3 linked regions of the Homo sapiens genome follow. The protein of the gene in region 3 interacts with the protein of the main gene of each other region in a biochemical or structural test. Each region holds a gene or a part of one and is shown on either strand. Other genes may lie near its edges.

The links.
Region 1: the proteins of DDX6 (region 3) and STAT1 form a complex in vitro, tested with the Homo sapiens proteins (one large-scale study listed by BioGRID).
Region 2: the proteins of DDX6 (region 3) and RO60 form a complex in vitro, tested with the Homo sapiens proteins (one study listed by BioGRID).

The regions. Positions count from the first base shown.
Region 1 is NC_000002.12:190,997,123-191,000,779, forward strand, and holds part of STAT1 (signal transducer and activator of transcription 1-alpha/beta), read right to left. Parts: intron 2,583-3,657; coding exon 2,504-2,582; intron 1,187-2,503; coding exon 1,095-1,186; intron 886-1,094; coding exon 734-885; intron 1-733. UniProt on the Homo sapiens protein: Signal transducer and transcription activator that mediates cellular responses to interferons (IFNs), cytokine KITLG/SCF and other cytokines and other growth factors.
Region 2 is NC_000001.11:193,062,583-193,066,239, reverse strand, and holds part of RO60 (RNA-binding protein RO60), read right to left. Parts: intron 1-3,657. UniProt on the Homo sapiens protein: RNA-binding protein that binds to misfolded non-coding RNAs, pre-5S rRNA, and several small cytoplasmic RNA molecules known as Y RNAs.
Region 3 is NC_000011.10:118,756,531-118,760,187, reverse strand, and holds part of DDX6 (probable ATP-dependent RNA helicase DDX6), read left to right. Parts: intron 1-143; coding exon 144-266; intron 267-1,285; coding exon 1,286-1,414; intron 1,415-2,900; coding exon 2,901-3,017; intron 3,018-3,657.

The sequences.
Region 1 (3,657 bases), on a different chromosome or scaffold from region 3:
AATACAGCCCCTGCAGTCTCCCACATGTGTGCCTTTGCACACGCTGTGCTCTGTGCTGGAAAGCACTTCCCCTTGATCTACGTGGAGTAATCCTAGTGACTTTTGAGTCAGCACAAGGCCACTTCCTCTATGAAACCTTCCCTGGAGATGCTTTCCTTTGTCCTCCACAGAATTCTGATGGCCTTTTGCTAGAGCACCTGGATACTTTTACCACACGAATTATTACCATGTCTACATCCCCCCCTCCACACTGAGAACTCCTTGTTGGCAAGGGCCAAGAATCACTCATCCTTGTGTGCCCAGGTCCTACAGTGCCCGGCACACAGTAGGCATTTAATAAGTATTACTGGATGGATGACTGAATGTTTCCTAAAAAACTATTCTGTAAGCCTAGAAAAATGCCTCAAGCTATCTTGTTTTTAAGGAAACATTAAGAGTCAAGTCATTAAATGTGTTCTATAACGACCATGTCACTGATGTTTTGTACAGTCAAACGACACCCCATGGTACAGGAGTGCTCCAAACCAAGCAGACGTGGCTGAACGTGGCGAGAGTCATGAATAACACTGTGCTTTCCAAGGGAGTGTTTCCAGGGTAAGCAGAAGCTGGACTATGTCAAACTCTATACTAATGTTTTGACAGGGTCCATTCAACTAACACAGCTCAAAGGTACATTTATGTGTTTATGTGGTTAGCCAGTCAGCTGCCAGTTTTCTGCTTTGGAGAATCTTACCAGTTCTGCAGCTGATCCAAGCAAGCATTGGGCGGCCCCCCAATACAGGCGCTCTGCTGTCTCCGCTTCCACTCCACTAGTTCATCATTAATCAGGGCATTCTGGGTAAGTTCAGTGACATTCAGCAACTCTATTATTTTGTGAACTACTTCCTAAAGGCAATAGAAGAAACAAAGTGAAATAAATTCATTTTTAATCACTGAATTTTAAAATATTTTTTAAAAGAAAAGCAAATATCATTTCATTCTCAACTGGGGCTCTAAGCCAGGTGGCTATAATTTTTCCTCTCTTCTAAACTTTGAGTCCATTATTTACAGTGTATAACAAAAGTGGCATGCTATTCTGGAAAGTAAATAACTACCTTTCTCTTATTGTCAAGCATTAAATACATCTTCTTGAGTAACAGCTGTTCTTGTTTCTGATCACTCTTTGCCACACCATTGGTCTCGTGTTCTATAAATTGAGAGACAGCCAGTAAATATATAAAGAAGACAAAACCAACAAAAGCCAAGATTCATATAAATTTAGGATAAATATGACACAAATGCTGCCTAGTGACAGGTCAAAGTTTGGCTTTCTTCGATCTTTAATGAACATGAAAAAAAGTCCTAAGTATAACAACTAGACACACTGAAACAAAATACTTGTTTTCAAAAATTAGCCGGGCGCAGTGGCAGACGCCTGTAGTCCCAGCTACTCGGGAGGCTGAGGCAGGAGAACAGCATGAACCCGGGAGGCGGAGCTTGGAGTGAGCCGAGATCTCGCCACTGCACTCTAGCCTGGGCGACAGAGCGAGACTCCGTCTCCAAAAAAAAACAAAAAAAACAAAAAAAAAACAAAAAAAACTTGTTTTCAGTGACCCATGTAAATCAGACATAGTAGTATCTGCCACTTAAGACACTGTCAGGTAATTACCTAAATAAATGTAAATAACATTAATAATAATGTTATTATTATTATAAAAATAAATGTAAATAATAAAATGTTTTATCTGAACAGAATTCAGATAAAAAATGTATACAAAGCATAGCTGTAGCTTTCAAAGAGAAGTAGATGAGTAGGAAGTGGTAGTTGAAGTTGCTGTCTCTTATACTTTCTACCCAAATCATACTGATAATCTCTGCCTATGAACCATGGTATACCCCAGATGATGAATAGAGTAACAGCAGTACCCTACGTGTCCTACACAATGTACATTCTTGAGATCTTTTCTGTTGCTACTCTCATTAAAAACACGCAACAGTAAGAAAATACAGTAAAACTGCTTTAAAACATGAGAAAAATACTGAGCTTATCTGCTGTGTATACACGTGGCCCTGCAACGTTTGAAGAAACCTGAGATATTAGGGCAGGGGAACTCCACATATCTATCGCTCTGTGTCAGTCAGTGGGCTAGGCGCAATAAATATGGTGAGTAACACATAACCAGTGGTTATCAAGTAGGGGTCACTGACCCCTAGGGGACTTTTGGCAATCTCTGGAGACAGTTTTGGTTGTCACTAGTGAGGGCTCCTGGGTAGTGCTACTGGCATCTGGTGGGTAAAAGTCGGGGATGCTGTTAAACACGCTACAATGCCAGGACAGCCCCAACAACAAATTAGCCCGAAATGTCAATAATATTGGATGTTGAGAAGCCCTGGCCTGGGTTATCAAGGAAGAATTCAGAGTCATAAAATACTCGGCAAATAGAAAGGAGTAATCATCTTCGTTATCTAGTGTGAACAGAAAAAATTGCAGCCAACGGGCACCACTTCAGTTGTGAACCCTTACCTCTGTTCTGCAAGGTTTTGCATTTGAAGTCATATTCATCTTGTAAATCTTCCAGGCTCTTGATTTCATGCTCTATACACTACAAACAAAGATGTAAACATGTTTTCTACTGATCAGCAACTTCCAAAGACTTTAGGCAACAGAGTATTGCTTCTATGGAACCCAGAGAAACACGAAAACAATTCCATCTCCCCCAAAAAGAGATCTGACTTGGACAGTTCTAATCATATACATGAAATAATTTCGGTTTCATTAATAAGTATGTCATAACATTTTTAAAAAAGCAAACGTACAATAATTCTCAAACTGATTTGTATGTCCTTAACCTGGTTCCAGCGCCTAAATTTTGATTCTTCCTCATCATTTTTGAGACTACCTCTGAGATATGATTTAAGAACTCCACTGTGAAGCCCACAGCAGGCGGGGAAAAAGCTCACAGAAAATTTCCTCATTCCTTCCAAGTAAGAAAAGTGACCATACATCCCTGCTTTACCGGGATAGACCTGGTTTCATACTTGCTGTAATTATAAACAGTGCCCTCTTGGCGGCTCAAATGCATCTCCATCTGGACAATAAATTGTATGTTCATTCTACAAATAAGCCTCATTTGTTTGGGATTTGGTCACATTTCCACATATTCTTCTCTGGATTTCCATGGCTATTTCTGGACTGGGCTCACTCGGTTTCTACTTTAATGAAATGTTTCCCTAGGAGACCGCAAGATGAAGTTGCTCCAAAGAATGTGGAGTTTGGAAAGATGCTGTCTGAAGCATGTAAGTCAAGGCCATACTGCTATTACCCAGAGATCCACAGAGGACCAAACCCCTAAGCTGGAAGGCCTTTTCCACAAACACAGGCCTCTGTGAAAAAGAACTCCTCAAACCCTCCCCACACCAGCCCTAACAGTGGAGAGGAGTAAATGCGCACCATCGAGGACGCCAGAGCAGCCCTCTGCTTCCATAAATTGACTTGGAAGTTGTATCCTAAAATTGCTGTGGATGTCTTAATCAGAAATGTATCCAAATTTCTTTCAATAAAATGTATTTTTGTTCCTCTTCCAAGTCTTAGGATAAAACAGATGACTGGGAAGGATGGGCCATGTTTATCCTGGGGCACTGTGATTTGAGAGGTGTGGACATAAAGGCCCATTTAGA
Region 2 (3,657 bases), on a different chromosome or scaffold from region 3:
GAAGATACAGTAGAGAAGGGGGATAACTGAAGGAATTTCTTAAAGAAATGAGAATGAGCTTAGAGCATCCAGGTTGAGACTGGCCTACTGACAGCAAGAGATATTTCCTTTATCTTTTAAGGGTAAAGAGTATAGGTAAAGATAGATTTGAAGGAATGAGGGATAAGGAAACTGAAGACATTCCCCCCTGACAGGAGATGTAGAATGCCAAATGGTATGTGGAGAAGTTTGGTAGAGAGGGGAGGAATGAAAGACTGGGTCTCAGAGAGGGGAACACATAGTGGTGTAGGGATAAGTGCATGGGAGAATGAAGAGCCTCACATTTTGAATGTGACTGAGGGGGACAGTGATCTGAATTGTGTTCGGAATATTAGTGTCAATATTCCAAATAAGACGCTAGTATAAATTTGCTTATGTTAGTGGAAGCCTAGGTCTCAGGTGGCATCAGAGATGTAATGATCATATTAGTCATTAGGGACAAATTCATAGTTACTGAATACAGCATAGGTTGAAACTCCTGTTGCAGTGGATGCCTGTTCTCCTATTTATTATTATCCTCTTTTCAAATTTGGCTTTTATCTCTACCTTTCGATCCAAAACACTTTAAGAAGACTAACATGCTTCTCAAAGACTGATACCTTAATTGCCAATTCCAGTAGACAATGTTATGTTTTTCTGATCTTTACATTACATAGACTTTGCTAGTCTCTCCCTCAGCTTTCATAAAAACAGGCTCTGGTTGCACTTCAACCTGTCTACTTCTGCTTATTAGTTTTATTTGTTAGATGAGTAACACTGAAATGACATCTAATATCAGATAATTCTACTAAACTTGCTTTCCTGCACCAAGGCCCAAGTGGTGGGATTTAAAAGGTCCCAAACCAAACCTCAAAATTCCCTCTCCCCTCAAATTCTTTTCCTTGTATTATTCATTGTGACCACATGTAGCTACATTATTGGTTCCCTTGAAAGTAGAAACCAAATCTTATCATTTTTGTCTCCTCTTTTGTATTGCTTTTATGTAATTAGCAATACATACTTAAAGCCAAATATCATTAAAGTTGACTTTCTGAACCATTTGCCAAATAATTATGCACAATTGGTTTCTCTTTCCCATAACACATTTTGAGAATAAAAGCCTCAATATTTATAATGCAAAATATAATACAAGTCTTTAAGATAAATTCTGTAATCAGAATGATAAATGTACTATATGCAGGTAGTGAAAAATATAATCAAGAAAAAATAAAGTTCTAAAGAAAAGTAATGAATACTGAGTAAAAATGTCATCTAAGAACAAAATTTCTGTTTTTCTAACATATTTAATATTAGGTATTCAGGTACTTCTCTAGAGCAAGCAGCAAAATGAACTTTTAAATCTATGAAGGATGTCTAAGAGGTAATCTCTAAGTATAATCCTTATAATCCCTATTAGAAGAAATAAAGTTACTTATTCATGGACTCTTCCTTTTGCATGTTATGATATAAATGACAACCCTGAGGACATACCCTTTCAGTATTTCTGCAGCAGAAACTGCTCAGGTTTTCCTATGCTTCTGTGACTGTACTTTCCAGAGTGCAACATAAAACAGTGGAACAGATAACATTATTAGCAGCCAGGGCACCTTCCTACTTGATTATATAAATTTACCAGGGTCATATTCATATTTTAAAAGACAGAAAACAGAATAACATGTCCCAAGTTACTCTCCTTCTTGTCACTGAGTGTGATACACACATAAACTCAAAATTCGGCAAAGTGATGTGATACTGTGGCATCTTATAAGAGAGAGTACCTGGTCTTTGGACATAATACCCAGCAGAAAGTTTCAAAAACCCGTGGTATTTCCTGAGAAATAGGAGTGTCTTTGTTACATTAATGAGGCAACATGGGCCCCTAGGTAGCTTCAGGATGGGGGCTAATCACTAGAAAGACCAACTATATGTTTAGAGGAATAAACTGGTCAGGCCAACCTTCCATGAAAGGAGGAGGACTTGAGATCAAGTTCAGCCATGTAGCTAATGATTTAATCAATCATGCCCATGTGATGAAACCTCATAAAAACTTTCTTCATCGATACTCAGTGGAGCATCCTTGGTGAACAAAAACTGATGTGCTGGGAAGGTGATGTGCCCACATTTCACAAGGATGGGCATGGAAGTTCTGCATCCTTCCCTTGCCCCAGACCTTGCCATATGTGTCTACTTCCTGTTTGGCTGTTCCTGAGTTGTATCCCACATTTCACAAGGATGGCATGGAAGTTCTGCATCCTTCCCTTGCCCCAGACCTTGCCATATGTGTCTACTTCTTGTTTGGCTGTTCCTGAGTTGTATCCCTTATAATAAAACTGTAATTGCAAGTAGAGCACTTTCAGTGAGTTATGTGAGTCATTCTAGTGAACTATCAGCCTTGAGGGGATTATGGGAAGTCTTGAATTTGTAGTCCGCAGGGCAGAAGTGTGAGTAGCCTGGGGACCCCATTTACAGCTGGTGTCCAAATTAATGGCATTCTTAGTGGGGACCTTGTCCTTTAATTTGTGGGATCTGATGCCAACCCTGGGCAGCTAGTGCCAGAACTAAACGGAAGTGGGGGACACCCAGCTGATGCTACAGAATTAGTGTTGGAACGCAGACACCAAAGGCAAAAGTGACAAAATAAAAAAATAAACTGGACTTTATCAAAATTTAAAACTTGTATTTCCAAGGACACCATCAAGAAAGTGAAAAGACAACCCAAGAAAAAGGAAAATATTTGCAAATCATACATACAATAAGTGACTTGTATCTAGAATATATTAAGAACACTTACAACTTAATAATAAAATGATAAATAACCCAAGTAAAAATAGGCAAAAGATGTGAATATTACTCCAAAGACACACAAATGGGTAAAGAATCTGAAAAGGTGTTTTTCCAAAGAAGATTATCAAATGGCCAGTAAACACATAAAAAGATGACGAACATCATTAGTCATCAGGGAAATGCAAATCAAAACCACAATAAGATACCACTTCACATCCACTAGGACAGCTATAATCAAAACAATAATATTAAGTGTTGGTGAGGATTTAGAGAAAATGAAACGCTCATATACTGCTGGTGGGAATGTAAAATCATACAGCCACTTTGGAAAACAGTCTGGCAGTTTCTCAAAAGGTTAAATATAGTTAGCATATGACCGAGGAATTCTACCACACACCTAAGAAAAATGAATACATGTATCTAAACCAAAAGTTGTATCCAGATGTTTTTATCAACATTACTCATAACGGTCAAAAAGGAGAAGCAACCCAAATGTCCATCAACTGATGAAGGGATGAAAAAAATATGGTATATCCATACAATGGACTATTATTAGACAATAAAAAGGGATGAAGTAGTGATACATGACACAATGTAAACAAACCTTGAAAACATTATGCCAAGTCAAAGAAGCCAGTCACAAAAGGCCACATATTGTATTACAATTCCATTTATATGAATTTTCCAGAGTAGGTAAATTCATAGAAATAAAAAGTACATTAGTCTAAGGTTGTCAGAGGCTGTCGGAGTGGGGGAACACTGGGAAGTGACTGCTAATGGGTAGGGGATTTCTTTTTGGGTGATGAAAATGTTCAGAAATTAGTGGTGATGACTGCACAACTCCGTGAATATACT
Region 3 (3,657 bases):
TGTTGGAGAGAATTTATTGTTTTCCACCAGGAACATTTCATGGATGCTTTTGTTGGATGATGCCTTATTCTTTGACCATGTATTAACCAAGACCTTAGACATTATTTTATTGTTTTTAAAATTGTCTTTTCTTTCTACTGCAGGCAGATAAGTTGCTGTCACAGGATTTTGTGCAGATAATGGAGGATATTATTCTCACGCTACCTAAAAACAGGCAGATTTTACTATATTCCGCTACTTTCCCTCTTAGTGTACAGAAGTTCATGGTGAGTATAAATCTGTACTTGGAATCAGTGCCATCCTGTGACCTTTGAGTATGCTTTTATTTGTAATTACATCTTCATATCTGTGAATATACTTTATGCTAATTATTTCAAGCCTTTGGCTCTTTCTTCAGTTGATCAATTAAAGATTTGTTTTACGTAAATTAACTGACTTTTTAAGAAGGTTGTAATAGTAACTTAATTAAATTCCTCATCTTTCACTTAGTTTTTGGTGTCATGATGACATAGCCATTGGTGCTAGCTGAATTGATTCCGGTATTATTCTATATACAAAACAGAGCTTGAGTATCCTAAACTGAAATCCAAAATACTGCAGAATTTGAAACCTTTTGAGCCACGAACATGATGCTAAAAGGAAATGTTCTTTGGATTTTGAATTTTCAAATTAAGGATGCTCAGTCACTAAGTGTAATGCACATATTCCAAAATTAGAAAAAATTTAAAACCTGAAACACTTCTGTTCCTAAGCATTTTGGGTAAGGAATACTCAACCTGTAGTAACTTAGCTGCATTTTTGAGATCTTATATCTTAATTTATTTCTATCGGGTCGGGCATGGTGGCTCATGCCTGTAATCCCAGCACTTTGGGGGGCCGAGGCGGGCAGATCACAAGGTCAGGAGTTCGAGACCAGCCTGGGCAACATGGTGAAACCCCGTCTCTACTAAAAATACAAAAATTAGTCTGTTATGGCAGTGCATGCCTGCATTCCCAGCTACTCGGGAGGCCGAGGCAGGAGAATCACTTGAACCCGGGAGGTGGAGGTTGCAGGGAGCAGAGATCGTGCCACTACACTCCAGCCTGGGTGACAGAGCAAGATTTTGTCTCAGGGTGGCAGGGGGGAAATTCTGTAATGACAGATCATATATTTTGTTTTGAAGAGAGTTGCGTCCCTTACAGCAAGAGTTTATCGGACAGAAACGTATAGGGTATATTTTGAATTTGAGATGAACTCTGCTTTCATTTAAGACGACGACTCATCTTTTTCCCGCTCCCCCCCCAGAATTCCCATTTGCAGAAACCCTATGAGATTAACCTGATGGAGGAACTAACTCTGAAGGGAGTAACCCAGTACTACGCATATGTAACTGAGCGCCAAAAAGTACACTGCCTCAACACACTTTTCTCCAGGGTAAGAAGTAGGCTTCTGCTGTTGAATATTATCTCTCGAGTCCCAGTAAAACAGATGATTTCATCAATTTTCCCACCGTCTTCACTGTATAAAAGTTCGTAGTGTTTCTGGCTTGGCACGGTGGCTCATGCCTCCCAGCACTTTGGAGGCTGAGGCAGGCAGATCACGAGGTCAGGAGTTTGAGACCAGCCTGGCCAACATGGTGAAACCCCATCTCTACTACAAAATACAAAAAAATTGGGCATGGTGGCGTGTGCCCATAATCCCAGCTACTTGGGAGGCCGAGGCAGGAGAATTGCTTGAACCCAGGAGGCGGAGGCTGCAGTGAGCTGAGATTGCACCATTGCACTCCAGCTCTGGGCGACAGAGCAAGACTCCGTCTTGGGAAGAAAAAAAAAAAGATTAAAAAATAATTCATAGTGTTTCCTAAAAGGCAGGTTTAGTTGTTGACCTAAAGTTGATACTAAATGATTAACCAAGTCACAGATACACTTTTGAATAGTTTCTGAAATACTTTGACCTTAACTAGGGTTAATCCTCATTATTCACATATTCTGTATTTGTGAATTTGCTTAGTCACTAGAATTTATTTGTAACTCCGGAATTAATACTCAAGGTAGTTCAGCAGTCATTTGTGGACGTGTACAGTGTGGCAAAGAGTTTAAGTCACCTGACATGCACATTCCCAGCTGAGGTCGAAGAAAGCAATCTCTGTCCTCTTGTTTAGCTCTCATACTGTGAACAAGGGTCCTTTTCACAGTCTGCCATGTTTTTCAAGTTTTTGTTGCTGATTTCACAGTTTTAATTGGCCCCTACACATGGTGCTGAAGTGCTGCCCAATGCTGGTGGCATTGGTTGTGAGTATATTAAAGAAGGTATTCTTGGCTGGGCACAGTAGCTCATACCTGTAATCCCAGCACTTTGGGAAGCCGAAGTGGGCAGATCACCTGAGGTCAAGAGTTCAAGACCAGCCTGACCAACAGGCTGAAACCCTGTCTCTACTAAAAATACAAAAGTTAGCCAGGCATTGTGGTGGGTGCCTGTAATCCCAGCTACTCAAGAGGCTGAGGCTGGAGAATTGTTTGAACCCAGGAGGCAGCTGTTGCAGTGAGCTGAGATTGCACCATTGCACTCCAGCCTGGACAACAAGAGTGAAACTCCATTTCACAAAAAAAAAATAAAATAAAATATTTTTAAATGGAAACACATAAAACATAACTACTTTGAATCAGATAATCAATTGTATTACTCTTGTTGACAGTTATGTGGCCCTTAAGAAATATACTCTAATACGGTAAATCTTAGATATTATTATCTTCCATCTATTATTTACAATTTTTACAATTTACCATCTCTCTCATATCATGAGATTCTAAGTTTTAGACCATGTTAATGTTTCTTTTTTGCTGGTTCGTGTTTTCAAGATTTGGCAAACCAAATGAAGGTTTTTTTTATTTTTCTCATACTTATTTTTTTCTGTGCTCAGCTTCAGATAAACCAGTCGATCATTTTCTGTAACTCCTCTCAGCGAGTTGAATTGCTAGCCAAGAAGATTTCTCAACTGGGTTATTCTTGCTTCTATATTCATGCTAAAATGAGGCAGGTGAGTATAAAACTAGAACTTGCACAAATTTAATAAGAAATCTCTTTCTTTATTTTGTTTTAATGTTCTTTTAAATGTCCTGAGTTTAAGAATAAACTGTTCCTTAGTAGCCAAAGGACCTTTCATTTTGACCTCCCTCAGGTTCAATTTTCTAGCAATAAAATAGGGATAATAGTACATATTCATAACTTACAAGGTTGTTAGGAAAATTAAGATAAATGTTTAAATGAGTACTTTGGAAGCTGTCAGGCATGATACAAATGTAAAATTTTATTCTTCCCTTCCTTTCCATGTTTAATTCTCTGTTTAATACAGTAAATAGCCACATGTGGCAATTTAAATCAGTTAAAATTAAAATAAAAAGTCAGTTTCTCAATCACAGCCACATTTCAAGTGCTCAGTTAGGCACCTGTTGCTACTGGATAGTGTATTGGAATTGGAAGTACAGACACAAATATTTCCTTTATTATAGAAGTTTTACTGGACAGCACTGCTCTGGATTTTTAAATATGGCCCCTCAGCTGGCTGATTTTTCTTTTTTTCTTTACTGTTTGCCTTTAGAAAAAGATACAATATCTAAATTTCAGAATTTGATTTAGCAAAAAATAATTTAAAACTGTAACAAAAATGACTTTTTTGT